Linked DNA regions of Homo sapiens: all the other regions are reported to be linked to region 5. The links are microRNA targets in miRTarBase. Many come from high-throughput screens and were not tested one by one. Region 5 holds a microRNA gene; each other region holds the end of a gene's coding sequence.

The links. The annotated mature microRNA hsa-miR-616-5p reads ACUCAAAACCCUUCAGUGACUU and lies in region 5 at 1,856-1,877, shown strand. An mRNA with a match to its seed (bases 2 to 7 or 8) in the 3' UTR can be bound and repressed. Matches are read on the target gene's strand: a 7mer-m8 pairs with bases 2 to 8, a 7mer-A1 pairs with bases 2 to 7 and ends in A, and an 8mer does both.
Region 1: miRTarBase lists CHAF1B as a target of hsa-miR-616-5p. Seed matches in the 3' UTR shown: 7mer-A1 at 1,063-1,069, 8mer at 1,412-1,419, 8mer at 1,670-1,677 and 7mer-A1 at 2,970-2,976.
Region 2: the mRNA of CYTIP is a reported target of hsa-miR-616-5p. The part of its 3' UTR that is shown has no 7-base or 8-base seed match.
Region 3: miRTarBase lists SPIRE2 as a target of hsa-miR-616-5p. Seed matches in the 3' UTR shown: 7mer-A1 at 3,975-3,981.
Region 4: the mRNA of NXN is a reported target of hsa-miR-616-5p. Seed matches in the 3' UTR shown: 8mer at 1,820-1,827.
Region 6: miRTarBase lists PDF as a target of hsa-miR-616-5p. The part of its 3' UTR that is shown has no 7-base or 8-base seed match.

Annotation. Positions count from the first base shown.
Region 1 is chr21:36,415,675-36,420,758 of GRCh38, forward strand. It overlaps CHAF1B (chromatin assembly factor 1 subunit B), which reads left to right. Exons shown (of 14, transcript NM_005441.3): 14 at 601-3,341. The coding sequence ends at 692. Among named protein-coding and RNA genes, the nearest start is that of CLDN14-AS1, 12 kb to the right of the region's middle.
Region 2 is chr2:157,411,578-157,416,661 of GRCh38, forward strand. CYTIP (cytohesin 1 interacting protein) reads right to left here. Exons shown (of 8, transcript NM_004288.5): 8 at 3,042-4,566. The coding sequence ends at 4,100. Among named protein-coding and RNA genes, the nearest start is that of CYTIP, 30 kb to the right of the region's middle. RefSeq lists an enhancer at 2,125-2,174.
Region 3 is chr16:89,869,778-89,874,861 of GRCh38, reverse strand. It overlaps SPIRE2 (spire type actin nucleation factor 2), which reads right to left. Exons shown (of 15, transcript NM_032451.2): 15 at 3,543-4,812. The coding sequence ends at 4,590. TCF25 (TCF25 ribosome quality control complex subunit) reads right to left here and starts at 1,270. Exons shown (of 18, transcript NM_014972.3): 1 at 1,003-1,270. The coding sequence starts at 1,194. LOC112268179 (a long non-coding RNA gene) reads left to right here and starts at 1,374. Exons shown (of 2, transcript XR_002957933.2): 1 at 1,374-1,894; 2 at 2,941-4,485. RefSeq lists silencers at 486-955, 1,426-1,545 and enhancers at 1,626-1,785, 1,556-2,512.
Region 4 is chr17:796,855-801,938 of GRCh38, reverse strand. NXN (nucleoredoxin) reads left to right here. Exons shown (of 8, transcript NM_022463.5): 8 at 808-2,629. The coding sequence ends at 990. Among named protein-coding and RNA genes, the nearest start is that of MRM3, 17 kb to the right of the region's middle.
Region 5 is chr12:57,516,100-57,521,099 of GRCh38, reverse strand. It overlaps MIR616 (microRNA 616), which reads left to right and starts at 1,841; the gene lies at 1,841-1,937. It overlaps MARS1 (methionyl-tRNA synthetase 1), which reads right to left. Exons shown (of 21, transcript NM_004990.4): 20 at 4,763-4,855; 21 at 4,448-4,665. The coding sequence ends at 4,519. It overlaps DDIT3 (DNA damage inducible transcript 3), which reads left to right and starts at 586. Exons shown (of 4, transcript NM_004083.6): 1 at 586-682; 2 at 3,347-3,394; 3 at 3,662-3,831; 4 at 3,920-4,507. The coding sequence starts at 3,694. The coding sequence ends at 4,291. LOC128125814 reads left to right here and starts at 620. Exons shown (of 2, transcript NM_001414991.1): 1 at 620-682; 2 at 3,347-3,388. The coding sequence starts at 620. The coding sequence ends at 3,388. It also overlaps a transcript of MBD6 not described here. RefSeq lists a silencer at 159-618 and enhancers at 1-788, 1-814, 689-818, 789-1,750.
Region 6 is chr16:69,324,455-69,329,530 of GRCh38, reverse strand. PDF (peptide deformylase, mitochondrial) reads left to right here. Exons shown (of 2, transcript NM_022341.2): 2 at 352-2,618. The coding sequence ends at 509. VPS4A (vacuolar protein sorting 4 homolog A) reads right to left here. Exons shown (of 11, transcript NM_013245.3): 11 at 2,592-5,076. It overlaps COG8 (component of oligomeric golgi complex 8), which reads left to right. Exons shown (of 6, transcript NM_032382.5): 6 at 352-3,103. Among named protein-coding and RNA genes, the nearest start is that of PDF, 3.6 kb to the left of the region's middle.

The DNA.
Region 1 (5,084 bases), not on the chromosome of region 5:
TTGTGGAGGACTGTCCTGTGTATTATGCGATGTTTAACAGCATCCCCGGCTGCTACTTCTTGCCCATGACATTCTTTTTTTTTTTTTCTTTTTTTTGAGATGCAGTCTTGCTCTGTCGCCCAGGCTGGAATGCAGTGGCACGATTTCGGCTCACTGCAGCCTCCACCTCCCACGTTCAAGCAATTCTCCTGCCTCGGCCTCCCGAGTAGCCGGGACTACAGGCGTGCGCCATCACACCCGGGTAATTTTTGTATTTTTAGTAGAGTCGGGGGTTTCACCACGTTGGCCAGGCTGGTCTTGAACTCCTGGCCTCAAATGATCCACCCGCCTCAGCCTCCCAAAGTGCTGCGATTACAGGCGTGAGCCACCGCGCCCAGCTTGCCCATGACATTCAAAAATGCCACTAGACATTGCCCACTGTCCCTTGAGAGGCAAAATCGCCCCTGGTTGAGAGCCACTCTATAGAACTTCCATTATATCAGTATAGGATCTTGCCAGGCAGCTCAGTTCCGTGTCTTGGCTCTGTATTCTGTAAATGTCAGCCCTTGACTTCCAGAATTCTTCATTTACTTGCCAACCTTATGTTTGTTAATGTTGCAGAGACGCCTGGAGACGCTCAGGGCAGTCCCCCAGAGCTAAAGCGGCCCAGACTCGATGAAAACAAAGGAGGCACGGAAAGTCTGGACCCTTGATGGGACCTCGGCTTCTGCTCGAAGCCTACCAGGCTCCCGGTGTGTGCAGGGAGACGGTAAAGCTGGAGGTGCCTGAGACCAGGGCTTCCATGGAGCGGGACACACTGTAAATGGATTTCTATAACAGAAGTGACATGTGTACTGATTTTTCTCCAGAAATATGGATGCTGTTGTATTCAGTATCCATTTTTAACTTGGGACATGAACGTTTTAACGTAGTAAATCCTCTTTTTGATGAGTTTCTGAAACTGGAGCGGTTCAACGTTATCCAGTGTGAAAATCAGTGAGTCCTCCCTGGCATCCTCGTGAAAGTGCACACACTTCATGGAGGGACTCCTTTTCAATAAGAATTAGGAAGATGAGAAAGTAATTTGAGATTTTACTCTGTCGAATTTTAGAGTATTTGAAGTGATTGTTAGATTTCACTTCTAAGGAGTTGATTGATTAAACTTTGGAAGGTAGTTGTGTTTGTTTTCTGATTTTAAAGGTGACGATGCTTATTCTTTTAGTAACTAAGTGAAGTGAAAAAGATGGGTATCACCCATCATCTTCCCACCAGAAGTAACCCTCGTTAATGTTGTAGTATATTTCCTTAGCATTTTTGTGGATCTATTTATTCTAAAAAGAGAATTGAGATTTTATTTCATATGCAATTTGGTATCTAAATAGGTTAGTTTTTTAGATTGGTTTTTCAAAGCAAAAAAAGTATCTTTTTTGTTTTTTGAGACAGGGTCTTGCTCTGTTGCCCAGGCTGGAGTGCAGTGGCGCTATCTCAGCTCACTGCAGCCTCGACCTCCTGGGCTCGAGCGATCCTTCCACCTCAGCTTCCCGAGTAGCTGGGACTACAGGCATGTGCCACCATGCCATGCTAATTTCACACACACATGCACCCACACACACACATATATATGATACATATATATATATATACACACACACACAAGTATGTGTGTATATATATATTTTTTTTCTTTTTTTTTTGAGATGGAGTCTCACTCTGTCGCCCAGGCTGGAGTACAGTGGCACAATCTCGGCTCACTATAACCTCCGCCTCCTGGGTTCAAACGATTCTCCTGCCTCTGCCTCTTGAGTAGCTAGGATTACAGGTGTGTGCCACCACATCCGGCTAATTTTTATATTTTTAGTAGAGATGGGGTTTTGCCATGTTGGCCAAGCTGGTCTCTAACTCCTGACCTCAGATGATCTGCCTGCCTCGGCCTCCCAAAGTGTTGGGATTACAGGTGTGAGCTACTGCACCTGGCCTAATTATTATATTTTTAGGGGAGACGGGGTTTTTCCATGTTGCCCAGGCTGGTCTCGAACTCCTGGGGCTCAAGTAATCCTCCCTCCCCAGCCTCCCAAAGTGTTGGGATTACAGGCGTGAGACACCATGCCTGGTCAAATGGTATCTGTTTTGACGGGTGGTTCTCAACTGTAGCTGCATACTGAAATCACCTAAGAGCTGACATACCAGTGCCTGGGTTCCCGCTTCGGAGGATTTGGCCTAATCGGTCTGGGGTATGTTCTGAATATTAGGATTTCTTAAAGCTCCTGGAGTAATTCTGATGCGCAGCCAAGATTGAGAAATCTAAGGGAAAAAACTTTCCCTGGATACGGTCTGTTCTGGTTAAATGCATTTCCACTGAAAGCATTTTTTTTTTTTTCCGAGACAGAGTCTCGCTCTGTCACCCAGGCTGGAGTGCAGTGGCGCAATCTCCACTCACTGCAACCTCACCTCCTAGGTTCAAGGGATTCTCCTGCCTCAGCCTCTCCAGTAGCTGGGATTACAGGCACCCGCCACCACGCCCGGCTAATTTTTGTATTTTTAGTAGAGATGGTGTTTCACCATGTTGGTCAGGCTGGTCTCCAACGCCTGACCTCGTGATCTGCCCACCTCAGCCTCCCAAAGTGCTGGGATTACAGGCGTGAGCCACCGCGCCCAGCCGAAAGCATTTTCTTGATTATCTCTGCCCCGTCACTGATTGACATCCTCCTTTGCTGGGGCCGCGGACTGAAGGACAGTATGCAGGAGGTGCCATCAGCTCTTCTGAAAAGAGACAGCTTTCAGTGTCATGTGGCTGGCGTGAGGTGCGGTTTGCAGTTGTTGATCCTGTGCAGACAGATGAATGACCATGGGTCCCCTGTCCTTATTGAGCAGCCTGCTTCCTGGCCATACCTGGGGAGGAACAGTATTAGGTTTTTCTGGGTGTGGTGGCTCACACCTGTAATCCCAGCACTTTGGGAGGCCAAGGTGGGTGGATCACTTGAGGTTGGGAGTTTGAGACCAGCCTGGCCAACATGGTGGAACCCCATCTCTACTAAAAATACAAAAACTAGCCAGGCGCGGTGGCACACACTTGTAATCCCAGCTACTCGGGAGGCTGAGGCACAAGAATCGCTTGAACCCGGGAGGCGGAGTTTGTAGTGAGCTGAGATGGTGCCACTGTACTCCAGCCTGGGCGACAGAGCGAGACTCTGTCTCAAAAAAAAAAAAAAAGAGAAAAAGAAGAACAGTATTAGGTTTTACAAATCTGTTTCTTGTGCATTGATTGTGGGAGTTGGGGTGGGGGACCCCTGATGGCCTGCCTGTTCTCAGCCATCATCCTTAAATATAAATCAAAATTGGCAATAAAAGACCAAGTGAAGTCACTTCAGTGTCATAGTCTAAAACTGCCTGCAACCATCTGGGCAGTGTATTGGGAAAGCTTTTGCAAAGGGAGCCCAGCCTGAAGGTTGGGCAGGCTTCCACCTTACAGTGGCTGCTGGGTTGAAGATCCTTCTCATGGTTCTGGATCTGTACTTGGAGGGGTCGTTGTTTCTGTTTTGAGCAGTATTTCCAGATGTCTCTAGCAACTCTACTGTTGAATATTAGTTCCTGCTGCTGGGGGTGCCTAGAAGAAAATCAGTCTCAGGCTTGGGGAGACTGCTTGGGAGAACTTGACCTGACTTCCCTGGAATCTGGGATTGTGAGGATAGGTCGGCGTTTGAAGGAAGAAAGTTGGAGGCTCAGCGTGGGCAGCAGAGGGTGAAGCCTTCATTTTATGCAGTGGCCCGTACGGTGGACAGGGGTATGCGGTGCCTCCTCGGGTTATCGTGGATAACGGGCCCAGCCATCCTCAGCAAGTGCCCACAGGGCCAGGGCCCTCTAGCAGAGAGGGGCAGGAGGATGTGCCACGGGGCAGGGGAGAAAGTCTCCTGGGGTCCTCGTTTACTCCAGTTTCCTCCCTTATATCCACTTCCGTCGTCTTTGCTGAAAGCACATCTGTGTAACGATGCCCTTGGCCCTCCTTACCTAAATAGTTGTCAGCGTTCACTTAAACAACATAGGTTCCAAGTCCTTGGCTCTGGAAACATCAAATGGGGAGAGGGAGGAGGTGGAGGATGAGCTGCTCCAGCCCCTTCTTCCCTGGTCTGGGGTCTCCCAGGACTTCTGCAGCCTCCCTGGTTATTAAGCTACAGTTCAACCTTGGGTGTGTGTGTAGGACAGACAGACTTGGACAAATTACTTCATGGGTCTGTGCCTGTTTCTTCATCAGAAAAAGTCTCTACAGCTAGAAAACCTTGGACTTTGTTTGCTTTGGTAGGGGAGAGGGGTAAGAGAAAATGTAGGGGGGGGTCACCCACAGAGAAACGAGAGACTGAGTTAATGCAGCTGGAAGCTGAGCCAGATTGTACTTCCCTTGCCTGGCATATTGAAGTAACACACTTGTTTTCATGCACAAATTCTCAGTGGCCACTGGGGGTCACTGTCCCCACTGAATCCACTCAGCAGTCCTGCTTCCTTAGGCCTGAAGGTCCCATGTCTCCGCCCCACCTCCTCTAAGTGATCCGCGCCCCTGTCCGGTCTTGGGAACAGAGTGGCCTTAGATACCGGCTTCCGCCCCGATGGCCAGACCCAGAGTGGAACACTGTTGAGCAGACAGGGGTGGGAGAGGATGATGAAAGCAGTATGTGCATGGCCATGCCTTTGTTCATTCATTCATTCATTCATTCATTCATTCATTCAAGAAATGTCTATCAAATATCCTCTGGGTACCAGAGGACACCTCAGGAACAAACCAGACAAAAGCCACCACCCTCTTGGGGCCTACATCCTGGCTTGGGGAGACCAACATAAGTAAATACAGGGAAAACAGAGTGGTGAGGCGCCCTGGGAGAGCTGGGTTGGAGACTGGGTTGTAGCCTGGAGTGAGAAGGGCCGAGCCGAGAAGGTCGAGAGGCAACGCAAGAGAGAACGGAAAGTGATCGGATGGGGCGTTCTAGATTTTTCTAGGAGCAGGATATCCTTGTCATCTAGGGTACCCGGTGTGTTCTCTGGGCAGGCTGGGTGTTTTGGGGTCCCCCACTGCTTCCCCACTTGGCATGAATCCCCATTTTGTCTGGAGTTGCCCT
Region 2 (5,084 bases), not on the chromosome of region 5:
ACTTTTTGGCTAGTTATGCAATCTTGACCAGGTTATTTCATTCCAAAATTCACTAATGCTTCCATTTCTTTATGTGGAAATTATTATGACAGTCACTAATTTTTACTCAAGGAGATTTAGAGACAGCTCAATACCCTTATATTATCAAGTCTGTGAACTCCTTGAATGGTGTTACAAACAGACTAAGGTGGTCCCCTGATCCCTAACTCCTAATATTCATGATTGTGTAATCCCTGCTTCTTGAGTGTGGGTGGGCCTGTGACATGTTTCTAACAAACAGAACATGGTACAGTTGATAGGATACTATTCCCATCTTAATGTTACATTATTAGGCGAGGTGACGGGAAGTCACTTAAGAGGTTATGTTACATGGCAAAGGCGATAACATTGTATTATTTAAGACTCTGTCTTGTTTGTAGCCTCTCCCTTTTTCCTCTTCATTACCAGCCTTTAAGAATCAAGCTGCCATGAATTGTATGGCCACCAGGTAATGATTCTGACAGCAACCTGAAGGAGCTTAAAGGTTGATCCTTCTCCAATCAAGCCTCCAGATAACAACACCAAAATTGCAGTAAATTGCAGGTTTGTGAGATCCTGAGCAGATCCAGCTAACCTGTGCCCAGACTCCTGGCCCACAGAAGCTTTGAGATAATAAATATATTTTAGGCTTCTAAGTTTGTGGTTATTATTTATTTATTTTTATTTTATTATTATTATTATTTTTTGAGATGGAGTTTCACTTTTCTTGCCCAGGCTGGAGGGCAATGGTGTGATCTCGGCTCACTGCAATCTCCACCTCCCGGATTCAAGCGATTCTCCTGCCTCAGCCTACGGAGTAGCTGGGATTACAGGCATGCACCACTACACCCGGCTAATTTTTGTATTTTTAGTATAGACGGGGTTTCATCATCTTGGTCAGGCTGGTCTCAAACTCCTGACCTCAGGTGATCCACCCACCTCGGCCTCCCAAAGTGCTGGGATTACAGGTGTGAACCACCATGCCTGGCAGTAATTTGTTAAATAGCAATAAAAAAGCTAATAGTGCAAAGTCTCAATTAAGTAAGTAGTGTCTTTTAAGGTCCTCAAAGAAGTAAATGTTGAGAATCACCCAGGTTTTTTAAAAAGTCTGCTTTTAAGACAATTATTTCTTTATGGTAGAGAGAAATGTAGGGAGAGAGAGAGAGACAGAGAAAGAGAGAGAAAGTCCTGACACTGAAAAATAGCATTCTTTATTTCATAAAGGCATCAAATTTTGATTTTGTAGCCCATAGGTATGTAAGGAAATGGATATAAAATAACAATACTTTTATGATCTGAGGGGCTCAATATAGTTATGTATTACTTACTATTTTTAGTATGTATACATTCAAAAATGTCTGTACTTTGGTGATCAAGACACACATACTATTTCCAAGTTTGATCTATTCAGCGCAAACTGGGATTTTAAATGCTATCTGTATCTTAAGATATAAAATTATTACAAGGTAGAAAGTCATAAATAAAAGTTCACTTCCAAAAATATATTACTAATCTGTTTGTCATGGTTGTGTTCTTCAGCCACATGATAAAGTAATTCCCAATCTACTTGATTCAAATTTGGTTTATCAAATGCCCTTCTAGAAAAATGCATTTTCATAACAGGTTGTCAATTAATGGAATTCACCAGTAATACATATTTGAGAACTTTCAAGTTAAAAAAACACTTTTCAATTTTTTCCCTAGTAAATTATATCAGAATGAATCACTATGCACCAGAAGTTTCTTCTAAAGCCTGACTGAAGTCATAAATTAGTCTGAAAGTTATACTGTGAGAAATTTACCCACATTTCTACTAAACAAAAGCTAATTTTCTTACAGCTTGTGAAATATAGAACATGACATACCCTTCCTTCCTGTACTTTGGTTAACCAGTACTTTTTTCTTTATTCTCAGAACATACCTCGACTCTAATTCTTACCGCAAACTAAAGTGATGCTTGCTCCGTCCCTTCCCTGCCCCTTTTTTGCATTTGAGGTCTACTGTCATACAGCAGTGTTACACTTCTGTATTAAAATCACAAGAAAAGCAAATGATCTATGGTCTGCTTTCCCGTATGACCTATGTCATTCTGTGTAGTTCTCAAAGCATTTTTTCACCTTGTAGAAGATTTCAAAGTCATCTTTCCTCAAATAAATGTGGTGTTTCCTTCCCCTGGACTTTGTGAAATAGGATAACAAGAAATGCTGAATTCATATAAGTAGACCTTTAACAGGATGATTCTAGACTATGATGAGAAATAAGCAATACCAGTTGAATCATAACTGGTTTGCAAGCTCTTGTTGAAAATAAATGCACTGCTAATCATGTAGTTATTAAAGAACCTATGTCTGAAACTTGTATATGAGGAACAGAGAAATGTTTGTTTTCCTATTTACCCAAAGAAATGCTCTTATCTGTGCAGCATCTATAATTGTACATTTTAAGTATTCCTGTTGGGTGGAATAAAAAGTACTGTGATGATCACTAAACAGAACCAAAAGAGTAAAAGATATCTGGAATAGACTAGAGCAAGGAAGAACTGGCTTCCAATTTTAGCCCTGCCACTGACTAGCCTTGTGACCCTGAGAACATTTCCAAATTCCTGACTTGTTATCTGTATGCCTAACACCTACTATATAGTAATTGTGAGGATCATACGTAAAGTGTCTTTAGCCAACTAGGTACTCAGTAAATGGTAGACAGTATTGCTATCATTTCTGTGAAAGGTGTGACACCCTGCCTTTCATATGAGTGACTGTCATGCACAGGCCACTGGATGTTTCTCAGTTCAAAGAGTTAATAGAAGGCAAGTCCCAACTAGAAATCTTTTCATACTTTATCATTTCTTTCTCATCTTAGATGCTTCCTTACCCTACCCTCTTTTATCTCAAAATAACTCATTTCTTAAGCAGAAGTTTAATTAAATTTAGCAGCTCTACTTAAATTGAAGTGTTTCTATTTCTCCCAAACACACACACACACGCACAGAGAGAGAGAGAGAGAGAGAGAGAGAGAGAGAGAACTTAAAATCAGCAGACTATTTATTACATAGTCCAGATTGTCTACTCTAGAATATAGGTTATGAATAGCTGTGCCACCAGAACAGAGAATTCATAGACTTCAATGGATATTAAATAAAACATGGAGTAATTGAAAGGCTAGAAGTAATGTGATACTAACATAACCAATAGGCAAAAGACTGCTGAGGTGATAGCTATTTAGAATATAAGATATAAAGTGAGAAGTAATATGAAAAAAACTACAGGAGGGAAGTCCTTTTCCCAACCCTCAGTTTTGGATGTTAGACATTTGTAGAAAAAAAATTACAAAGCTGTAGGATTCGGAGAGTTCTAGACTTGCCATTAATGTTCAGGCAGAACAAAAGCTGAATTGGGCAAAAAACACGACATCCCCACCCATTTTGTTTAGACTGTCTATAAAAATGACTTTATTATGATCTTTGCAGCACCCATCTCAGACCACATCTTTCCATGGTTCTCATGAACCTTAACCCCTCCTATTAAATCTTATACTTCCCGCTTTATTGTCACTATAGATGTGAGAAACAGCTGATGGTCATCTTTGTTTACAAGCCATTACAGGTTTGAACAAATTCAAAATTGCCTATTATTAAGCCTCCGCAGGAGCTACTGGGCATAAGCAAACCTAAGATTTTATAACCCAGCAATTATCCTATAGAAAATAGTCCAGATTATTATATTCTGCCACACCTTTATTCATACTTGACTCCAAAAAGTTCTCAATTATTCACAGGGATAATCTAGAAAATAAATATTAGTTTTGCTTTCAAAGACATTACTGGAATGAGCAGGAACCTGCATCTTTGTTATATTAATTAACTTATTATTTAGTTTTCCTGTCTGCTTAGAAATTGGCTGTTTAGGTTGAAAAATGATTTAAGAAGCATAAACTATAACACAACAATTTAAATAAAGGTCACTATTGCTGTGAAATGGGATGTCAGTTTTGCAATTCTTCTGCACTTTCCCACCAAGCTGGGATCTGGGTGAGTCTAGAGATATTTGTGAAATAAGCTAATTTGAAAGGACACCACAATCCGTCAAAAGCGACTTTCTTCCTCTTCCACAGCACGATGAAGGCCAGGGATAAATTTCAAGAGTTGCTTTCGGACACTTCCCTTTCTGCTCTTCCGGGGCAGGGTCCCAAACATGCTTGATAAGTTGCCCTCCCACAAGGGAGACATGGATCCGCTGCTGGTGTTACTGATGCTCCGGTTCCTCCTTGAAGATGACCTCCTCAGAAAATCATCCCCCTCCTTGGGGATAAAGCACTCATCATCTGTACTCGTCTGCCGACTGAAGGCACCCCTGCTGGAGTCCTCAGACACACACGTCTGGTAGCCATCTTCACTGTCCATCGTCATGGAGCTCAGCCAGCTCTTACAGCTGCTCTCACTGGATAATCGATTCCGGTCCACAAGGGCTGGGCCTGGCCCAGGCAGGGGTCCAAACAAAGACAATTCATCCAAGTCCATGTTTTCCAAACTGGGGCAATTAGCTGCATCACCTAGAGCACAAAGTCTACTGTGAAATGGATCTGTTCATTACTCCCTACAAATAAATACACTACATCAAAACTTCTCTTTGAATGACACGAGAAAGAGTAAGGGTGAAAAATACTTTTCACTGAGCTTTGGCGTGCTTGAATAAGTAACTGTTTATGAGACCATTTGATAAACCTTATAGTAGGGTTTCCTGAACTATTGTTCATAGACCAAGGTTCCATGGTCACAAAAATTATAATATTAGAATAAATTTAAACAAGATGTTTCATATGAGAACAGTTCAGCCCAATTGACAGTCTACCAGTGTGGCATCTGAACCTCCAAAATGATCATTTCTTAAATTTAAATAACCCTGAAACCTTTTATTAAAATTCTCACAGAAATGGGGTTCCATAGAATACACTTGGGGAAATACTATCATGATTTTCTCCACTTAGTTTCTCTGATTCTTAGGTACTGTCTTTTAAAAATAATTCTAAAATTATTATAAAACCATTTGAAGTAAATAGAAAACAGTTAT
Region 3 (5,084 bases), not on the chromosome of region 5:
TGGACAGATTGTTTGAGCGCAGAAGTTCTAGACCAGCCTGGGCAACAAGGCGAAAACTCTTCTCTACAAAAAAGAAAAAAAAAAAAAATTAGCCGGGCGTGGTGACATCCACCTGTAGTCCTAGATACTCAGGAGGCTGAGGTGGGAGGATCGCAGAGCCCGCAGAGGCAGAGTTACAGACGGAGGCCAGGGCTTAGGAGAAAACGTCACAGGACCGCATGAGCAAACCATACAGTCAAACTGTTACTTCCCTGTGCCAGAAACGAGCTGCCGGAGATGCAGCAAAGAGTAAGACTAATCCGCTGGGTTAGGCTGATGGGGATGCGCGAAGAGCAAGGCCCTGGGTTAGGCAGAGTTGTTGTGAGGATTAAAGCAGAATGCTCGCAGAGGCCTGGCAAGTCCTCAACCCTGGAACCGAGAGAAGGCCCCTCTAGACTCGAGAAAGGGAAGCCCCACCCGACTCCTGCCCCTACGCCGTGGCCCCACCCCCACGGTGGCCCCAGGCCTCATTTAACCCCGCCCACGCCATCGCCTCGCCACCCCCCCGTCTTTAGCCACGCCCTTTAGCGTCACGGCCCCACGACAGCCACGTGGCCGCAGGCCCATTTAATCCCGCCCACGTCGTGGCCCGGCCCCGCGGACGTTGGCCACGCCCTTGGCATCAAGGCCCCGCACCCTCCACAACCCGGACCCCGCTTAACCCCGCCCATTCGGTCGCCCCGCCCCGACAGCACGGCCCCGCCCCATCCCTTAGCCCCGCCCACCTCACCGGGGTTAGAACCCAGTCTAACTCCGCGGCCCGCCGTCTTCACCCCACGCCACCGCCCACCCGCGTCGCCCTGGCCCCGACGCACGGCCCCGCCCTCCCCACTGCGGCTGGGACCCACGTCACCCTTCCCACCCCTGGCATCACAACCCCGCTCCCCGACCCGGCTGGACGCTCGCCCCGCCCCACAACGTCAAGGGCCACCCCACCCCCACCCGGGCCGCCGCGCTCCTCACCAGCTCGAAGCGGTTGTTGACTCGGACGCCCTCCTTCCCTGCGCCCCCGGGACGCCGGACACCAAGCTCCCGCTTGGGCCCTTCTTCTTCCGCGTCATCGTCATCACGGAGATCGAAATGCAAGGCGCCGGGCCCGAGGGGCTCCTGGCCGCGCTGTTCCCCCCTCAGCCTCCGGAGGGCCCGGCGCGACATAGGACCGAACGACCACGACGTCTGGAGAGAGGGAGAAGGAAGCGCAGAAAACTCGGCTGTCGGCGCGCCTGCGCACTCTTCGCGCGGGGTCGGGGGCGGGGGAGCTGGCTGCGCGCCTGCGCACTCTTGGCGCGAGGGGTGGGGGCAGGACCTGGCTGCGGCGCCTGCGCGTCGCGGCTCTCCGGAACTTTCCCGCTTCAGCGGCGGCGTCTGGGCGGGCTCCGGGGGGTCCGGGCCAGGTCTCTGGAGAGCTGGGTGTCTGCGCGCCGTGCGCACCGGGCATGGAGAGGTGCCCCGCGGGGATGACGGGCTTCGATTCGGGGTAACGGGCGCGCAGCCGGCGACAGTCGGCCCTGCCCGGCCTTGCCCATCCATGTGGCCCGGAACCCGCAGCCGCGTTCTGCCCGCCGGGGCCTGTCCCCGCACCGTGCCTGCAGCATTTCAGCTGCGTCCCGGACGTTGCTAGTTGGTCCTTTTCGTGTCAGGGTGTCATTCGAGTGATCTAGCCGTCGATGCCCGCCTCTGCCCTGGAGCCGCCGCCCCTCGAGCAGCATTGAGTGACGCGGCCCTTACTGCCCGCCCGAGGCCTCTTTAGGGACAGTGGTTCTGACAGTTCTAGGACAGGCCGCCCGCGTTTGTCACGATCTAAGGGCCGGGCGCGGTGCTCACGCTTGTAATCCCAGCACTTTGGGAGGCCAAGGTGGGCGAATCACCTGAGGTCGGGAATTCGAGACCAGGTTGGGCAACACGGTGAAACTCCCTCTACTAAAAATACAAAAATTAGCTGGGCGTGGCTGCGCACGCCTGTAATCCCAGCTACTCGGGAGGCTGAGGCTGCAGTGAGCCGAGATCGCGCCACTGCACTCCAGCCTGGGCGACAGAGCCAGACCCTGTCTCAAAAAAATGAAAAAAATAAAGTAGATGAGGCTGAGACAGTGCTGGGTTCAGTGGGCGGAGGGCACAGCTTCCTGTGCCTGGGGTTGGGGACATGGGGACAGGAGGGCATAGAGAAGACAGGTGCCAGCAGCCTCCTGCCCGACTTACTGCGGCTTCATGAGCACAAGCAGCAGCCCTGGTGAGCCGGCCTGGCCCCTCCCAGGATGGGTTAGGGTTTTATTTTATTTTGTGAGATGAGGTCTTGCTCTGTTGCCCAGGCTGGAGTGCAGTGGCGCAATCTCGGCTCACTGCAACCTCCATCTCCCAGGCTCAAGCACTTCTCCTGTCTCAGCCTCCCGAGTAGCTGGGACTACAGGCATGTGCCACCATGCCCGGCTAATTTTTGTACTCAGTAGAGATGGGGTTTCACCATGTTGGCCAGGCTGGTCTCGAACTCCTGACCTCAAGTGATCTGCCCACCTCACCCTCCAAAAGTGCTGGGATTACAGGTGTGAGCCACTGCACCTGCCGTGGTTTAGGGTTTTAACGTGGGCTTTCATTTCCAAGTGTTCCTGTATGAATTACAACCCAGTCTCCCCATGATAGGGAGTGTGAGTCCCCGTAGAACCAGAACAACCGTCGTCCTTACCAAGCACTACACATTAGCTTATTGCTGGCTGTGTGACCGGAGGAGTTCCCTGACCCTCTCTGTGCCTGTTTTCTTATTTTTAAACAGGAATAAAAATACAGGCCAGAGAGTCCGTGAAATGCTTACACGCATGCTAGAAGCTGGCTGTTTTTACTGGGGGCTCTAATTTTGTGTGTTTGGATTTCCTGGACCCCAGCTGACAGGAGTATTTTCTCCCGCAGGCCCATCAGTTACAAGTCCTGTCCCTTCTGACCTCCAGGCCCCACGGCTAGCATTACAGCCTGGAGTCAAAGTTCTGGGTGAGCTGTGTATCTTTGGCCAAATTCTTTGACCTCGTTGAGCCTCAGTTCCCTCATCTGTAAGGTAAGATGACGGCAGAACGTCACGGAGGAGCAGGGCAGGGCCCCGTTAACAGGCTGAGCCGGGCGCAGGTGAGCAGACAGCACTCGGCACAGGGCCTGTCTAGAGCCTGCAGTCACACCTCCTGCCCCTGTGGATCCTCTCCCTGGAGAACGAGAATACGGATCTGGGAAATGAGACCAAAGTACCCCCCAGGCCAGCAGGTGTGGCCAGAGGAGCTGATGGGCAGTAGTCTGTGCCGTCCGCATGCAGCCCTGACCATGGTGGCCAGGACCACGAAGCTGGTAGAGGCAGCCAGGGCTGCGTGGACAGAGCAGGCCTGGAGCCCTTGCCTGGTGGGCACCTGACTCTAAGCCAGGAGGCCTTTCCTCGTCCTGGAAGGCAGGTGGCCCCTCAAGCCCAGCTTCAACCTTGGGAGAACATGCCATGCTGGGTGAATCCTCAGCGCACATCCCAGACAGAAGACTGTGAGACCTCCTTTATTAGGCCAAGAGTGGCCATGTGCACAGATTTACAGAGCTGCTCCTCCCTGTGCCAGGACCGCCCAGCATCTTCAGGAGCCTCTGGGCCAGGGGCGAGTGAGGACAGCACCAGAATGTGGTAGGGCCAGGAGAGGCAGGACACATGTGGTTTGGACCCCAGGGAAAGGGAAAGGGCAAGGGCAGGGAGCAGCTTGGCACGGACCTTTTTTTTTTTCGAGACAGAGTCTCGCTCTGTCGCCCAGGCTGGAGTGCAGTGGTGCAATCTCGGCTCACTGCAACCTACACCTCCCGGGTTCAAGCGATTCTCCTGCCTCAGCCTCCCCTGTAGCTGGGATTACAGGTTCCTGCCACTATACCTGGCTAATTTTTGCATTTTCAGTAGAGACAACATTTCATCATGTTGGCCAGGCTGGTCTCAAACTCCTGACCTCAGGTGATCCTCCCTCCTCGGCCTCCCAAAGTGCTGGAATTACAGGCCTGAACCACCACGCCTGGCCAGACCTTTCAAACAGGTGGGGGTGCCTCCCAGGAGGACCCTGCCTACTCAGAGACTTCCCAGATGCCTCTGCTGCCTGAGTCCCCACAAAGGGAGAGCAGAGGCAAGCAGGGCACTCTGGTCCAGCTGGGAGCCAAGATACCCTGTCCCCACCTAGACGTCCACTGGGGAAGGGAAACTGCCGTTCGCATTCCTGGGGACGGAGAAGAGCATGGGAACATGGGATGCAGTCTGTGCCAGGATCTAGAACCTTCTGCTTTCTCTCTTCAGTGAGAAAACCCACCCTGTTCCCTCCCCTTCCTCCCTGGCAAGGAATCCTGAGAAGAAACAGCCTCCCCCAGGGAGGGTTTTGAAGTGCGCCTGAACCCAAATGAGCTCTGGGGCCAGGAAACAGTGTATATAAATATATAGACTGTGTGTATATATTATAAATGTATCTATATATGTATATATGTACATGCACAGCTCAGAGCGTCCTAGCCTGATACAGGGCCTGCCTGGTGCCTCCTGGAGGCCTGGCCACCTGGGGCTGTCACTTGAAGTCAAGAGTCCTGGTGTTAGGGATGTAGAGGGATTGGGTCTGGCGACTGCGTCGTGGCGTAGTGTTGAGGACGTCCACGCTCTTGCGGCTGGAACGCACCACGTCTGCCACAAAGCTGGTGCACTCACTGCAGACATCCTTCAGGACACAGCCGTGGGAGTAGATGTGGGGGAACGCCTCCTCCACGCTCTGCCACTGTGGCCCTTGCAGAGACCTGGGAAGTGGGAGAGGGCACTCAGGGAGAGGAGCCAGCCAGGGTGCCACACCCCCCTCCCTGCTTGTGCATGCCACAGCCCCCTCCTGGCTGCCTTTCACCCTAGGCCTCCCCTTGGCCCTCAGGCAACAAACACAGCTAGCAGTGTTCATCTCAGCAGACTGTTCCCTGACCACCCAAGTCCAGTTTCCATCTCATACTGCTCAGCCTCCCAGAGCCCTACACAACGATCCGTCTCTGCCTTGCATTTCCATTTCCTTGGGGTGTCCTAG
Region 4 (5,084 bases), not on the chromosome of region 5:
TCTTCTGAACTGGCTGGCTGTGCAGCTCCTGTCCTGCCTGAAACCACAGGGGTGGGAGTTGGAACACAGCGAGCTGTCTCTGTTTAAAAACATTCCAGAGTTGAAGTCCAGATTGGCCTCAGATAACCCACAGTGGGGCTGCAAATCATTGACAGTTGGTTACAAAAATAAACAATCAGAGGCTATGACATTTCTAGACTGGCACGGTGGCTGACGCCTGTAATCCTAGCACTTTGGGAGGCCAAGGTAGGCGGATCACCTGAGGTCAGGAGTTGGAGACCAGCCTGACCAACATGGTGAAACCCCGTCTCTACTAAAAATGTAAAAAATTAGCCGGGCGTGGTGGGCGCCTGTAGTCCCAGCTACTCAGGAGGCTGAGGCAGGAGAATTGCTTAAACCCGGGAGGTGGAGCTTGCAGTGAGCCGAGATCGTGCCACTGCACTCCAGCCTGGGTGACAGAGCGAGACTCCATCTCAAAAAAAAAAAAAAAAAAAAGAATGTGACATTTCTAAAATGCTGAGGACGTATTAAAATGGTGTTGATGCTAATAAATACATAAATAATTAAATACAGACGACTTACCTAGTGGTTTGCAGGGCGGATGCAAAGAGAGAATTTTACAAAGCAGCCCCTTCCTCCGGAAGGCAGGGCAGGGTTCCCTCCTTCCCAGGCTGGGAGCCCTCTGCTTGGGAAACGCCGGCTCTTCAGGGTGCGGGAGCTACCACACCTGGGGAGACTGGGCCCAGGGGACTCTCCCCCTCCTTTCTTTAAAACTTCTTGGTTTTCTCTCCCTCCTGACGGCTTCAGGATGACATGACTGACTCCCTGCGAGATTACACCAACCTGCCTGAGGCTGCCCCTTTGCTCACCATCCTGGACATGTCAGCCCGGGCCAAGTACGTGATGGACGTGGAGGAGATCACCCCCGCCATCGTGGAGGCCTTTGTGAATGACTTCCTAGCAGAGAAGCTCAAACCGGAGCCCATCTAGCGTGGCTCCGGCCTCCTGAGACGTTATTTAAAACTCAGCCTTCTCCTCCTCCCCCTCCTTCCTTCCGCCCTTGGACTTACCCAGCGTGCCCCGAATCCCACCACCCAAGTGTCCAGCCTCTCTGTGGTGCCTTGTTTCTGCAGTAAACTCCTCAGCCAGCACCCTGGGGTGTGGAATCAGCAGCGGCAGAGTCCACCGTGTTTGGAGACTCTGTTTGGGAGCACGGGATGGCCGGGGGCCCGGCCAGAGCGGGGCTGCATGGCTTTCGCAAAGTCACTAGCTTTTGGTGAAGGATCTGCCAGGGTGTCCTGGGCAGAGTGAGCGTGGAGGGCCGGTGGGTCCCGCTCGGGCTCTGACTCTGACGTCGGCACACACGGCCCCGGACGGCCAGAGGGGAACCGCCGGGTGACACCTGCGTGGAGGCTGAGCTGAGAAAGGGCCTCCGCTTAGAGCTGCGGGTGAGGACGTCCTTTTCTAAGCAACACAGTCTTCCTCGGTCTGAGAGAAAAGCAGCCCACTCTTGTGTTCTCAGGCAGGGGATCTCCAAATGCAAAAGGAAGCTTGTAGAGGTTTTTTGGGTGAGAAGAAAAATGTAGCTAAGGTAATGGTTCATATCATACAAACAGCTCCCACGATCCTGAAATTCTGTTAACGAATCCTTCTCTTTGGACATCTTCCCAAGAAACTTAGCCCTGAGTCCTAGGAGGAGCACCTCTGCACCAGCACGGACCTCTCGCTCCACCCAGCTCTGTGCCCAAGGCCCCTGATCTCTGCTGAGGTGCCCACACCCACGTTCGATCACCCCTGCCATTCCCTTTTATTTTCTTTTTTTTGAGATGGAGTCTTGCTCTGTCGCCCAGGCTGGAGTGCAGTGGCACCATCTTGGCTCACTTCAACCTCCGCCCCCAAGGTTCAAGTGATTCTCCTGCCTCAGCCTCCCGAGTAGCTGGGATTACAGGCACCCGCCACCGTACCTGGCTAATTTTTGTATTTTTAGTAGAGATGGGGTTTCACCATGTTGGCCAGGCTGGTCTCGAACTCCTGACCTCAGGTGATCCACCCGCCTCGGCCTCCCAAAGTGCTGGGATTACAGGCGTGAGCCGCCGTGCCCGGCCCCCTTTTCTTTTCAAAGCAGAACTACAAAGATGAGAAATTACCAGAAGCCTCGCCTTTTCCTAAGCACCAGCGGAAGGAGCTGTGCCCCGGGATGGAGTGAGGGTGGAGGGCGCGTCAGCCACGGGTGGGCCTTGTGTCGCCTTGTATCGGCCCAGGTAGGTTGTTGGCCTCTTACTTGGGCTGACCTGACCCCCGAAAGAGAAACAGACAACTCTGTTCTCAGGATTGGGGATGGACGGCTTCGGCCAAGCGTTTTAGCCTCATTCACTCAGGCCCCACTCAGCACTCTGCCAGCCAAGACCATTGATTTGGAAAATCCGGTCCCCACCCGCTAATGAGCTGTTGACACTGTTGTTCCTTGCTGAATTGGATTGTTGACTTGTAGTTCAGAGGCGTACAACTAGTTGGCGATTAGACTTGTTATGTGATGTTACCAGCCTGAAATGCGATCACCCCGTAGGAAATAAAGCAGGCATCTCTGGACCTCATCCACCCTGGGCCTCTGCTGTCCTTGATCACAAAAGTTGTTTTTGCTTGTGGTCCTGTGCTCTATCGGGGTGGGCAGTGGAGGATACCTGGTAGCTGGGAGCTGAGTCCCAGGAGTTTTGAGACCCCCAGGATGTAGCATCTGTCACATCCTCTTGGCTTCCGGCAGCCAGGAAGCTCATTTGGATGACCGTGGCAGAGGCAGATCCCTCCTGCAGCCCTGGCCACCGTCTCTCCTGGTTTGACTTGGCCCTGGACGGAGGGTGAATCCTCAGATCGCGTACCTTGCTGTGGACATTCTTGCCCATTTCCTCCCTCCAGGGGAGCCGAGTCCTCTGAAGCCTGAGAAAGCTGGTTGGGAGAACAGGAGGAATCACGCACGGGTCTCCTTGTGAAGAATGGGCCAAGTGTGGGAGCCTCTTAAACCCAGCAGGTCCCAGGCTCAAGGCTTCTCTGGGAACGCTGCCAGAGTCTCCCTTAGGGGTCGGGGTGGGTGGGATGAATGTGGCCGACCTGAATGTGGGAGGTGGCAGGATTTCTCTCCATGTATCATGATGGCCTCGGAGGAAAGGTGGGTTCTCTTAGCAGCTGCTTACCTTTGGGGCAGGAGGAACAAAGTCCAGCGAGGGGGTTGCCCTAAGTCATTGCAACTGGATTCTTGACACCAGAATTCCCCTTTTAGAGTGGGTCTGTAGCTTCCTTAAGACCCGTGGGGAAGGTTTACTCCAAAGGTTCAGGTTTATACAGTGACTGCTTTGCGGGAAACCGTTAGGGAAGAATCACTTCTGAGTGTCAGGGATCGATAGTGAGAGGTCGTAAAGGCCACAGATGCAGGCGAAGTGGGTGGCATGATAATCCCCGCCAAGCAGCTCCACCTTCAGATTCTTGTTGCTAATTGGAAGCAGGTTCAGCACCAGCTGTGGCATATTCAAGGGCTTCCTCCGGCAGCCAGGAAAACCAGGCCCTGCAGGTGGAGGCTGGGGGCGGCTGTGAAAACGCCACTCTGTGGTTCCCAGATTTGTGTTTACCACAGTGACTTCCAGATCCCATCCATTCATCCTCACAACAGCGATGAGGGTTTTTTTTTTTTTTTTTTTTTGAGACAGAGTCTCGCTCTGTCGCCCCGGCTAGAGTGCAGTGGCACGATCCCAGCTCACAGGTTCAAGCCATTCTCCTGCCTCAGTCTCCCAAGTAGCTGAGATTACAAGCGACACCACCGCGCCTGACTAATTTTTGTATTTTTAGTAGAGACGGGGTTTCGCCATGTTGGCCAGGCTGGTCTCGAACTCCTGACCTCAGGTGATCTGCCTGCCTTGGCCTCCCACAGTGCTGGGATTCCAGGCGTGCGCCGGCACAGCCAGCCTGTTGTTGTTGTTTTTTTTAACCTGTCTTCCCAACATTAAAAGCCTGTTGAAGAAAAAGGGTATGTTTTCCACATTGAATTCCTAATTGGGAAAAAAAATACTAAAAAAAGAGAAAAGGGTATGTTTGGGACCAGCACATACAGCAGATGAAAACCAGCTTCTTTTCCAGAGCGAGGTGACTTCCTGCTCTTGCTTTTCGCCCCTTGGTACGTCCTTGAAATCAATGGCCATCACTTACCAGAACGCAGGGAGCGAGTGCTGTGTTGGCATCGGCCAAGCTTCAAATAGTAATTTTCAGCCAGACTTTGTTTTTTCCTGTTGCCTAATTAAAGACACTGAAAAGCTGTTCTCCCCTCCTGCTGCCTTGTTCTAGGACAGCAAACTGAATTCAGGAACAATACAGACGGAGCCGGATGTGGCCCAGGAGCAGATGCGCGGGACCTAACACGGTGTTGCCCCGTGCAGCTTAGGGAGGAAATGCAATGTATGAGAGGACACACGTCTGGGAACCCTGCACACTGGGAAGCGTAGTACCAGCAGGGCCCTGAGCGAGGGCACACGCTGTTGACGGTGCCGTTGCCCTGGGCAGGCCCATGTGTTGTGCGCGCTGTGGGTGGCTGTGCACACAGGCCCGCAGGTTCAGGAGTAGCACTGAGCAGGGGGCTGTGAGCTCAAAGGATCTTTCCAGTTTGCCCCGAAGCAGCTGAATGAGAGAAGTGGGCACTTGGCTACACCCCTCACTGCTGCCGCCAGCAGACGAGGGCACACGCCCTGCTTCCTCCAGGCTGCGGCTGCGCAAGGGAAAATTCTTTGGGAACAAATAGCTGTTGACCAGTAGCTTCATTAGTGCTGGGAATATAACATGAGGGCGTTCTAGGTACACCTCGTATGTGAGCGCATGAAGACAGGTAAGTATGCCTACTGCCATTTTTCAAGGCGTGTGTCTCACCCCCTTGGTGCTTTGGGACACTTCCCAAGCCCGAGAATGTGTCAGGAGGTTTGGGTGGAACTGTTGGGTTTCTGTTAAACGATACACAACTCGTGAAAGACTCTGTCCCCAGGTCTGTAGGCCAGTGTGCAATCCAGAGGCAGAGACGGCCTCCAGTCCGGATTCCGGGTGCTTATGCC
Region 5 (5,000 bases):
CTATGTGCCCATTAGCTGGGAGGGGCCAAGAAATATGGGAGTCCCTTATAGTGGGGGTAAAACGGCGGGTAAAGCTAGGTGGGCGGAACAGCAGCTTCTGGGGGAGACAAGCGGCAAAGAGGCTCACGACCGACTAGGGGCGACCAAGGCTGATAGCCGTTGGGGCCGTTGGGCGCCGGGAGCTGGCGCCCCGCCCTCTCTCCTCTCCCCCACCCTCCGCACCTCCCACCACCCTCGGTGTCCCCTGCGCGTGCGCGTGCAGACACCGGTTGCCAAACATTGCATCATCCCCGCCCCCCTTTCCTCCCCTCCCCCCCCGCTACACTCCCCTCCGCGCGCGCGCATGACTCACCCACCTCCTCCGTGAAGCCTCGTGACCCAAAGCCACTTCCGGGTCCGACACTACGTCGACCCCCTAGCGAGAGGGAGCGACGGGGGCGGTGCCGCGGGGCTCCTGAGTGGCGGATGCGAGGGACGGGGCGGGGCCAATGCCGGCGTGCCACTTTCTGATTGGTAGGTTTTGGGGTCCCGCCCCTGAGAGGAGGGCAAGGCCATGGTAAAAGATTACAGCCAGGCGCTCCCGAGGTCAGAGACTTAAGTCTAAGGCACTGAGCGTATCATGTTAAAGATGAGCGGGTGGCAGCGACAGAGCCAAAATCAGAGCTGGAACCTGAGGAGAGAGGCGAGTACTGATTCCCATCTACCTTTTACCCTCCCGTCTCCTCAAAGTTGGGGCGTCCGCTCTTTAGGATCGGCCTCACTCCTCCACAGTGAAGTTAGGGACCGTCCGAGAGAGGAATGGGGAGAGTCCCTTATTCTGGGGTGGTGCTTACAAACCCCTATTGCTTCGGACGACGGCGTCTCTCCACCCCTGCCCGGAGCCGGAACACGGGCCCTGCTCTGTGCTGCTGGGCAAAGGGACCTCGGTTGCCCTTGGGAAATTCATTCTTTCCCGTAGCCAACTTCAGGCCTCATCGTTAGGCCTGTCCGCGGGGAGGCAGGTCAGCAGGACACACCCCCGCTCTAAGACTGGGTGACCATCGCTCAGGCCGTTTCCGCCGCTTCGCCACCAGCGGGCCTTCTCCCTACCCCACCCCCAATTCTGTCTCAGTCTCAGTGCCTCTGGTGTCAGCATGGCCACCTTGGTAGCTGGGGCTACTGGACCCTGCAGCGGATAGGGGAACCTTGAGGAGACACAAGCCTTTGGGAGGGGTGCCGATGGACAGGGAGTGGTGTGTTTTCCTTTTGCCGTAGAGGTCTCTGGGCCTCCTGCACAAGAGAGCAGCCTGGATCTCTTAAGTGTAGGAGGCCATTTGGGGTCTCCCCAGGGTATTGTCCTTCCCTCGGGATTAGTCCCTGCCTCTTTAACCCGGTCCTGTCTCCCAGCTAATCTCTGTGTAACCATTGCATCAGGCCAGCCCCGTTTGGCTCTGCAGCCTTCTGACCTGAGGCTCTACTGCTGATGAAAGCCAAGTCCCACACACTGGAAGGCAAGGGAGGGTTCCCCAGGGAGGACAGCCCTGCAGAGAAATACTTCGGGCAATATTGCATCTCTAGCCCCTAGGGATCAGCAGCTGCCACTCTGCTTCTGCCCCTTCCCTATAAGAGAGACTGGGGGGAGTTTATCCATTCATTCTTAACAAATACTTAATGAGGACCTACTGTGTGCCACACAGTTTGGGGCTCAGGGTACATCCTTGAGCAAGAGGAAAAAATCATCTCAGTGGGAGGCCTACAGTAAACAAAATATAAGTGCCACGGAGAAAGCTAAAGCAGAGAAAGGAATGGAGAATGTTCAGGATGGAGGTCAGAGTGTTACATCAGGTGGTCAGGAATTACCTTAGGTAATTCCTCCACTCAAAACCCTTCAGTGACTTCCATGACATGAAATAGGAAGTCATTGGAGGGTTTGAGCAGAGGAATGACCTGTTTTAAAAGGCTCACTCAGGCTGCTGTATGGTGAATAGAGTTGCGGAGGGGTGGCAAGAGAAGAAATGGGAAGACCTTCTGCAGTCAGAAAGTTTCTGCAGTAATTTAGAGATGGTAGTGAATTGATCTAGATTGGAAACAATGGAATTAGAAGTGTTTAGATTCTTCTAAGCAAAGGTTTTAAAAACTCATTTTTAAAGAATGAGTTAAGGGCCGGGCATGGTGGCTCACACCTGTAATCCCAGCACTTTGGGAGACCAGAGGTGGGTGGATCACCTGAGGTCAGGAGTTCAAGACCAGCCTGGCCAACATGGTGAAATCCCATCTTTACTAAAAATACAAAAATTAGCCGGGCATGGCAGTGCATGCCTGTAATCCCAGCTACTCCGGAGGCTGAAGCAGGAGAATCGCTTGAACCCAGCAGGCGGAGGTTGCAGTGAGCCGATTGCGCCACTGCCTTCCAGCCTGGGCAAAAAGAGTGAGACCCGTCTCAGAAAAAAAGGAATGAGTTAAAATTTGCTAGTACTTTGGATTGCAGGGTGTGAGAGAAGAGGAATGAAGGATGATACCAAGGTTTTTAGCTTAAGCAACTAGAGTTGTCATCTGAGATGGGGATGACCTTGGAAGGGGAAAATCAGCAAGAGTTTGCCTTTGCACATAGTCTTAGGTGCCTATTAGACATTGAAAAAGAAATGGCAAGTAGGCAGTAGACAGCAGAGTCTGAAGTTCTGGAAGAGGTCCAGACTGGAAATGTACATTTGGAGGATGTCAGCCCTGTGGGAATGGAGTTAGGAAAATGCTATGATTTGTTCCCTTCCCTGTAGTTTAGTTTTTACCCTGGCAGATTTGAGGCCTGCTTTGGATTTAGAGAAAGCTGAGTTGGCCAGGACTTTACTATTATGTAACCAGGACTACAAATGTCAGCAACTAAAAATAAAGAAAGTCAGGCCCTCTTCTGCCCTTCGAAATGGCTACAGGGACCAAGTATGCATACCCCACAAGACCAGAAGTAAGGAAGGACCAGTAGGAGGCTGGAGGTAAAAGAAAAATAAGGGCCCAGCACGGTAGCTCATGCCTATAATCCCAGCACTTTGGGAAGCGATGGATCACAAGGTTAAGAGATGGAGACCATCCTGGCCAACATAGTGAAACCCTATCTCTGCTAAAAACACAAAAATTAGCTGGGCGTGGTGGCACGCGCCTGTAGTCCCAGCTACTCGGGAGGCCGAGGCAGAAGAATCACTTGAACCGAGGAGGCAGAGGTTGCAGTGAGCCGAGATCGCACCACTGCACTTCAGCCTGGCAACAGAGCAAGACTTGGTCTCAAAAAAAAAAAAAGAAAGAAAAAAAGAAAAAGAAAAGTAAGTTGCCTCTCCCCCTTCCAAAAATGGCTGACATTTCTCTTTGTTGCCCACAGTGTTCAAGAAGGAAGTGTATCTTCATACATCACCACACCTGAAAGCAGGTAAACTTAACCTACCCTTTTCCAAAAATTTTAAACGGCAGGACAGTAAATATTTTAGATGTTAAAAGTCCTATAGTCTCTAGCGTGACTCTTCATCTCTGCCACTGTAGCACCAAAGCAGCCATAAACAATATGTAAATAAACAGATGTGGCTGTATTCCAGTACAACTTTACCTACAAAAACAGGCATCAGACCAGCTTGCCAACTTGTGGCATAGACTGTTTGCTACATGGAGCTTGTTCCAGCCACTCCCCATTATCCTGCAGATGTGCTTTTCCAGACTGATCCAACTGCAGAGATGGCAGCTGAGTCATTGCCTTTCTCCTTCGGGACACTGTCCAGCTGGGAGCTGGAAGCCTGGTATGAGGACCTGCAAGAGGTCCTGTCTTCAGATGAAAATGGGGGTACCTATGTTTCACCTCCTGGAAATGAAGAGGTAAGAATGTTAGCCCTAAAGCTAAAGGGGGATGTTACCTTTCCCTTCTCAACTAATATCTATGTTCCCTTTCCTCATTTCCTTGAAGGAAGAATCAAAAATCTTCACCACTCTTGACCCTGCTTCTCTGGCTTGGCTGACTGAGGAGGAGCCAGAACCAGCAGAGGTCACAAGCACCTCCCAGAGCCCTCACTCTCCAGATTCCAGTCAGAGCTCCCTGGCTCAGGAGGAAGAGGAGGAAGACCAAGGGAGAACCAGGAAACGGAAACAGAGTGGTCATTCCCCAGCCCGGGCTGGAAAGCAGCGCATGAAGGAGAAAGAACAGGAGAATGAAAGGAAAGTGGCACAGCTAGCTGAAGAGAATGAACGGCTCAAGCAGGAAATCGAGCGCCTGACCAGGGAAGTAGAGGCGACTCGCCGAGCTCTGATTGACCGAATGGTGAATCTGCACCAAGCATGAACAATTGGGAGCATCAGTCCCCCACTTGGGCCACACTACCCACCTTTCCCAGAAGTGGCTACTGACTACCCTCTCACTAGTGCCAATGATGTGACCCTCAATCCCACATACGCAGGGGGAAGGCTTGGAGTAGACAAAAGGAAAGGTCTCAGCTTGTATATAGAGATTGTACATTTATTTATTACTGTCCCTATCTATTAAAGTGACTTTCTATGAGCCAAGGTCTTTTACTTTTTCTTCTTGCCTTTAGGGGCTTCAGGGGGTTTCCCCTCAGCTACAGCCAACTGTTTCTTTAGATCCAAGAGTTTCGCCACCTCCGCAGCAACCTCGTTCTTGTCTGCCTTTTGTGCTTTCAGTTCTCGGACAATGTTTCCCTAAGATAAAGGGGGGTGGGGAGGTAACAGTGAGGCAAGAAAAAGATCTATTTAGGATTCAGCTTGTCCAGTCTCCCACAGGGCTTAAGCTTCATACTTGTTTTGTCACTTCATCCATCAGCGCTTGTATCTGCTGTGGCTTGGCTGTTGTAACAGTCTCTACAACTGCTGGCTTCGGGGACGTTTTTGCCTGGAGAACAACAAAGTTATCACCAGCAACCATAAATATCCCCTAACCTCCAGTTTTATACAGCATCTCAGAGGGAAAGTGGTTACCTTTAAGTCGAAGGTCTCTTCTAGTTAAGACAGGAAAGAAAAACTGTAAGTGAGGAAGC
Region 6 (5,076 bases), not on the chromosome of region 5:
AACAAGTGGGGTCTCAAGCTGCAGAACCTCTGTTAGGAGTTGGGAGCCCACAGGTACCTCAGAAGTGGGAGGAGTGTTCGGAAGGGTCGCACCGTAGAAAGATGATTTCTCATCTCAGCTCTACAGTGAGCTCGATAACCTAATTACCAGAGTTGGGAACCAGGTTGAACGCTTGGTAATGGACCGAGATGAGGGACGTTTTCCAGTTAGAAGAGGAGCTGCTGTCTACATTTGCCATCTGCTGTTGCCTCTTGTCAATGGGAACAGCCAGGACCGGGGGCAGGGGTAGGGAGGTTGAGGATGATGCAGTTCAGCTGTTCCCACTCACCAGGGCTGTAACTTCCTTTGCAGGGCTGGACCCCAATGGAGAACAGGTGGTGTGGCAGGCGAGCGGGTGGGCAGCCCGCATCATCCAGCACGAGATGGACCACCTGCAGGGCTGCCTGTTTATTGACAAAATGGACAGCAGGACGTTCACAAACGTCTATTGGATGAAGGTGAATGACTAAAGCTTTGCTACTGGGGCTGAGGATTCCGGATACCAAGACGCAAACACTTTCACTTTGAGCTGGGCAAATCTTACTTGGCATCAACTTGGATGGCTCGCATATGACAGGAAACTGGATTGCCAAGGCATGGCAGACTGAGCTGGAGGAAGATGTCAGAAATGTTTGCCCTGAAATCAGTTACGGACAAAATGTTGGCTACAACTTGAGGAGAAAAATCACCCCCAAAGGAGTGGACATTTCCTAACAATTCTGTATGGAGGAAGGTGGGGTAATTGCATTCGTCTGCAGTAGACACGAGTTCCTCGGACCTGTATAATCTCCCAAAGCCAAGGTTTGGTAATAATGTAGTCCCCAAATACCTGAAAGCTGTCTTTAAAAATGCAGGTAAGCATGTGACTGGCCATTTGTGCCGAGTTCTTATTTTTACGGAGGGCTTGTGGCCTTAGACGCCAGTTTGCTTATGGAAATGAAAGAGAATAGTCCCTGTTCAAGGATGTGTTTCATGACAGCACGAGTGTAAATGAGTGCCCACACATTTTAACAGCCTTGGGCAGGATTTTGCTGCTGAGATCCCTAGAGCAGCTGGTTCTTGGCTCATTCTTGGGGTAGAGGCCGTGGATCAGGGCTGGGGGCAGGGGTGACAATTGAGAAGTGCACTGAGCCCTTTCCTGTTAACAATTGGGCATAGAAAGCAGGATTAGTACTTCCTGGTTATACACTTATTTTGTAAAAATAGAATTAATATCACAGCAACCAATGTGTAGGTTTAAGAAAGTGGCCAGGTGCAGTGGTTCACGCCTGTAATCCCAGCACTTTGGGAGGGCGGGGCGGGTGGATCACGAGGTCAGGAGCTCAAGACCAGCCTGGCCAAGATGGTGAAACCCTGTCTCTACTAAAGATACAAAAATTAGCCGGGCGTGGTGGCGAGCACCTGTAATCCCAGCTACTCGTGAAGCCAAGGCAGAGAATTACTTGAACCCAGGAGGCGGAGGTTACAGTGAGCTGAGATCACGCCACTGCACTCCATCCAGCCTGGGCGACAGAGCGAGACTCAAAAGTATGATTCTGGCTGTAGAGTTTTCTTTTTTTCTCTGTCTCAAAAAAAAAAAGTGTCAGCTTTGTCTTGTCAAGAGGTGAAGGAACTTGTTTTATTCTTTTATTTTTTTTTTAAGATAGAGACGGGGGTCTTACTATGTTGCCCAGGCTGGCCTCAAATTCCTGGTCTCAGGCAATCCTCCTGCCTCGGCCTCCCAAAGTGCTGGGATCAGTTGTGAGCCACACTACCCAGCCAAACTCCAGTTTTAGTTAAACTGTTTCACCTCATTTTTATGCTGAGTTTTGTAAAGTAGGTATTCTTGCTGAACAGAGTCCTGAAAATCAAACTATACAAGTAGTAGGAAGTCCATTAAGCTGTTTAGAGGAAAAAGTGTTATAAATGGCAGTTAAATGAACCCAGGAAAGACCCATCCTCCTTTGTGGCTTTCTCTGAGGCCCCATGAGGCCAAGCAGAAGCAAACTGGCTCTAGGTGCAGCCAGACTTTGAAAAGGAATCCCGGCCAGGCTTGGTGGCTCATGCCTGTAATCCCAGCACTTTGGGAGGTCAAGGCAGGCAGATCACCTGAGGTCAGGAGTTCAAGACCAGCCTGGCCAACATGGCGAAACACTGTTTCTACTAAAAATATGAAAATTAGCTGGGTGTGCTGGTAGGCGCCTGTAATCACAGCTACTTGGGAGGCTGAGGCGGGAGAATCGCTCAAACCTGGGAGGCAGAGGTTGCAGTGGGCTGAGATCTCGCCACTGTACTCCAGCCTGGGCGACAGACCAAGGCTCTGTCTCAAAAAAAAAAAAAAAAAAAAAAAAAGGGAATCCCAACCAGATACTGGTGCAAGGTCAGAGATGCAGCCAATGGGGAGATTTGTAGAAAGCTCATAGATGCTAAAAACATGGGTCTTTAGGAAAATTAGAATTCAGCTGAGCCTCCTTTCATTTGGACAATGTTCAGAAGCTCTTACAGGGGGCTATGGCAATCTTTTGATGCTTCTTATAGCTTTCTGAGGTTAACGCTTTTGTGGTGGGCATCGGTAGCAATAAAATGCAAACTTTATTGCATTTCCAGTAAAATCTCTCCCACTTTGAGCAGGAAGCACTCACAAAAAACGCATATACATGTCAACGTTGTGAGCTCATCAGAGTTTTAGAAATCAACTTCCACAGTGAAAGCCAATGTAGGCAGAAGGTTTATAACAGAATCCCCAGGCAGAGAAGTGAATTTCAGAGCATTTCAGGGAGGAAACTCCTCTGCACATGTCAGCATGTTTAACATCGATGATGGCAGGTTGTGTGCTGGCAGCCAGAGTCTGAGGCCACTGTCCAAAGTTCAGCGTCAGTGGTTCCTGTTGCTGGTCATGGAGAGAGACAACTGGAAAGTCAGGTGTCTTCACGCTCTAACTAGAGCACAGGGATGGACCATAGCCATGCTAACCTTTGTTAACCCCTAGGACTTGTCAAGGTGTTTAAGCAGTAGGAATGAGGAAACAACGTTCTGATTCAAGTAAATGTAACTAGAAGTAAAAATTTAAAAACTTGTAAGCTCACTAAAGTGAAGCTCTGCAGACACGGTTCATATCCTGGTGGCTGAGGGCACATAACCAAGAACTTACACAAGCACCCCCAAGCCACAAAGATCCCAGCTGCTATGGTTGAGGGGTAACCTGCCAGCACTGGAGCCAAGTGTTGGAGCTACTGATCCAAAGTTAGCTCACTTCTGCAGAGGCTCTGAACCAGAGCAAAGAAATGGCCCAGTGCAAGCCCAGTGTGAGCCAAGAGTTGGCCATGTAATCAGTTCTGGCCCAACCAGGTTTGAAAGGTAGAGGAGCAGTACTGGGTTTTGGAGAGGGAAGGTTGGAACAAAGCCCTTTGCAGGCTATAAGCTTCATTTACTAGGCCAGGTCTTTCTGTGTGAATGTGCTTTGACTTTGGTCTGTTTATATGCATGGGGTAAACGTGGGACAGCCTCTGCAGCTTCACTGCCTGCCGGACGTGGGTCCAGGGCTGCCAGCTCTGGGTCCTTGGTCTGTTGGGGGTCGCAAACTGAAATGGCCATGGGGCTATCTGGGCAGGCAACACAGATGAGTGGGGATGGGGGACCCCTTCTGTACAGAGCAGCCTCTACTTAGTGGCCGCTGACAGGCTGCCCCATGAGGACGCAGGCCCAACATTACCTAATTTAATCTTCTAGAAGTCAGAATTCTGAATTTTTATGTCAACTCTCGACTTTTTTTTTTTTTTTGAGACAGAGTCTTGCTCTGTCGCCCAGGCTGGAGTGCAGTGGCGCGATCTCGGCTCACTGCAAGCTCCGTCCCCCGGGTTCACGCCATTCTCCTGCCTCAGCCTCCCAAGTAGCTGGGACTGCAGGCGCCCACCACCACGCCCGGCTAATTTTTTTATTTTTAGTGAGACGGGGTTTCACTGTGTTAGCCAGGATGTTCTCGATTTCCTGACCTTGTGATCCGCCCGCGTCGGCCTCCCAAAGTGCTGGGATTACAGGCGTGAGCCACCGCGCCCAGCAACTCTCGACTTTTAAATGTTAGCGGCCCAAAGTGCTGGGATTACAGGCGTGAGCCACCGCGCCCAGCAACTCTCGACTTTTAAATGTTAGCGGCAGACCAAACCAAACAAACACAGCTGCAGGACGGGTCTGGTACGCAGGGCTCCCACTTTGCAGTCTCTGATCTGTAGGCCGAACAACGGCAAGAACTGTCTGGATCCCACAAACATCCCCAGCCAAACTTCTGAGGCCTTAAGGGGAGGAGGCCTTGCACACCTGACTGGAGAACAGGCCTAAGAACTGCAGTGTTCTGTTTCCTGCTCTGCTTTAGAAAAGAGAGGAGACAGAAAACCAGAGGGTCTTTTAATTGGAAGCAAGGGTGGCCCTTCAGAGTCTCAGTTAAGAGTCAAGGAAAGATGAGATCACTTGGGTAGCTCAAGAAGGGAAAAGGATTTATTAGACCATTTCCAGGACAGGGACCCAGGGGCAGTGGCTGGGTTCAGTGTTCTCACGCTCAGAGGAAGAAAAGGCAGTGGTGAACACCCGCCTGACTGCCTTACCCTGATCTAAACGACACCATCTCCTCCCCCAAGGAAGACACAGCCCTGGATGTGAACCTAGGAGGGTGGGAATGGCTTATGTCACTCGGTCTTTGAGGCAGAGCTTGGGCTGGGGTTGCAGGGGCATCAGCCAATCTGCTCTCAAGGAGCAAAACTTGGGCGTAAAAGGAACGGGCAGTGGGGCTAGCCGGCTGTCTGGAGGTCTGGGTGACCTGGCAGCACGGCTGCTTCTCCCCCGCCACCCCGCCCCACTCCTTGACACTTCCAGGTGATTTTATCTTTATAAATAAGATGAAAATCCAAGCAGCATTAATTTAGGGGAACAAAAGATGGAAAAAAAAGGGGGGGAGGCAGAAGGAGCTGATGAGCATCCAGGAGAGGAGGAAGTAGGAAGAGCAGTGTCCACTGTGTGCCCCAGGGCAGTGGAGTGTCTCTGTGGCTGCAAGGCCCTTCCTTCTGG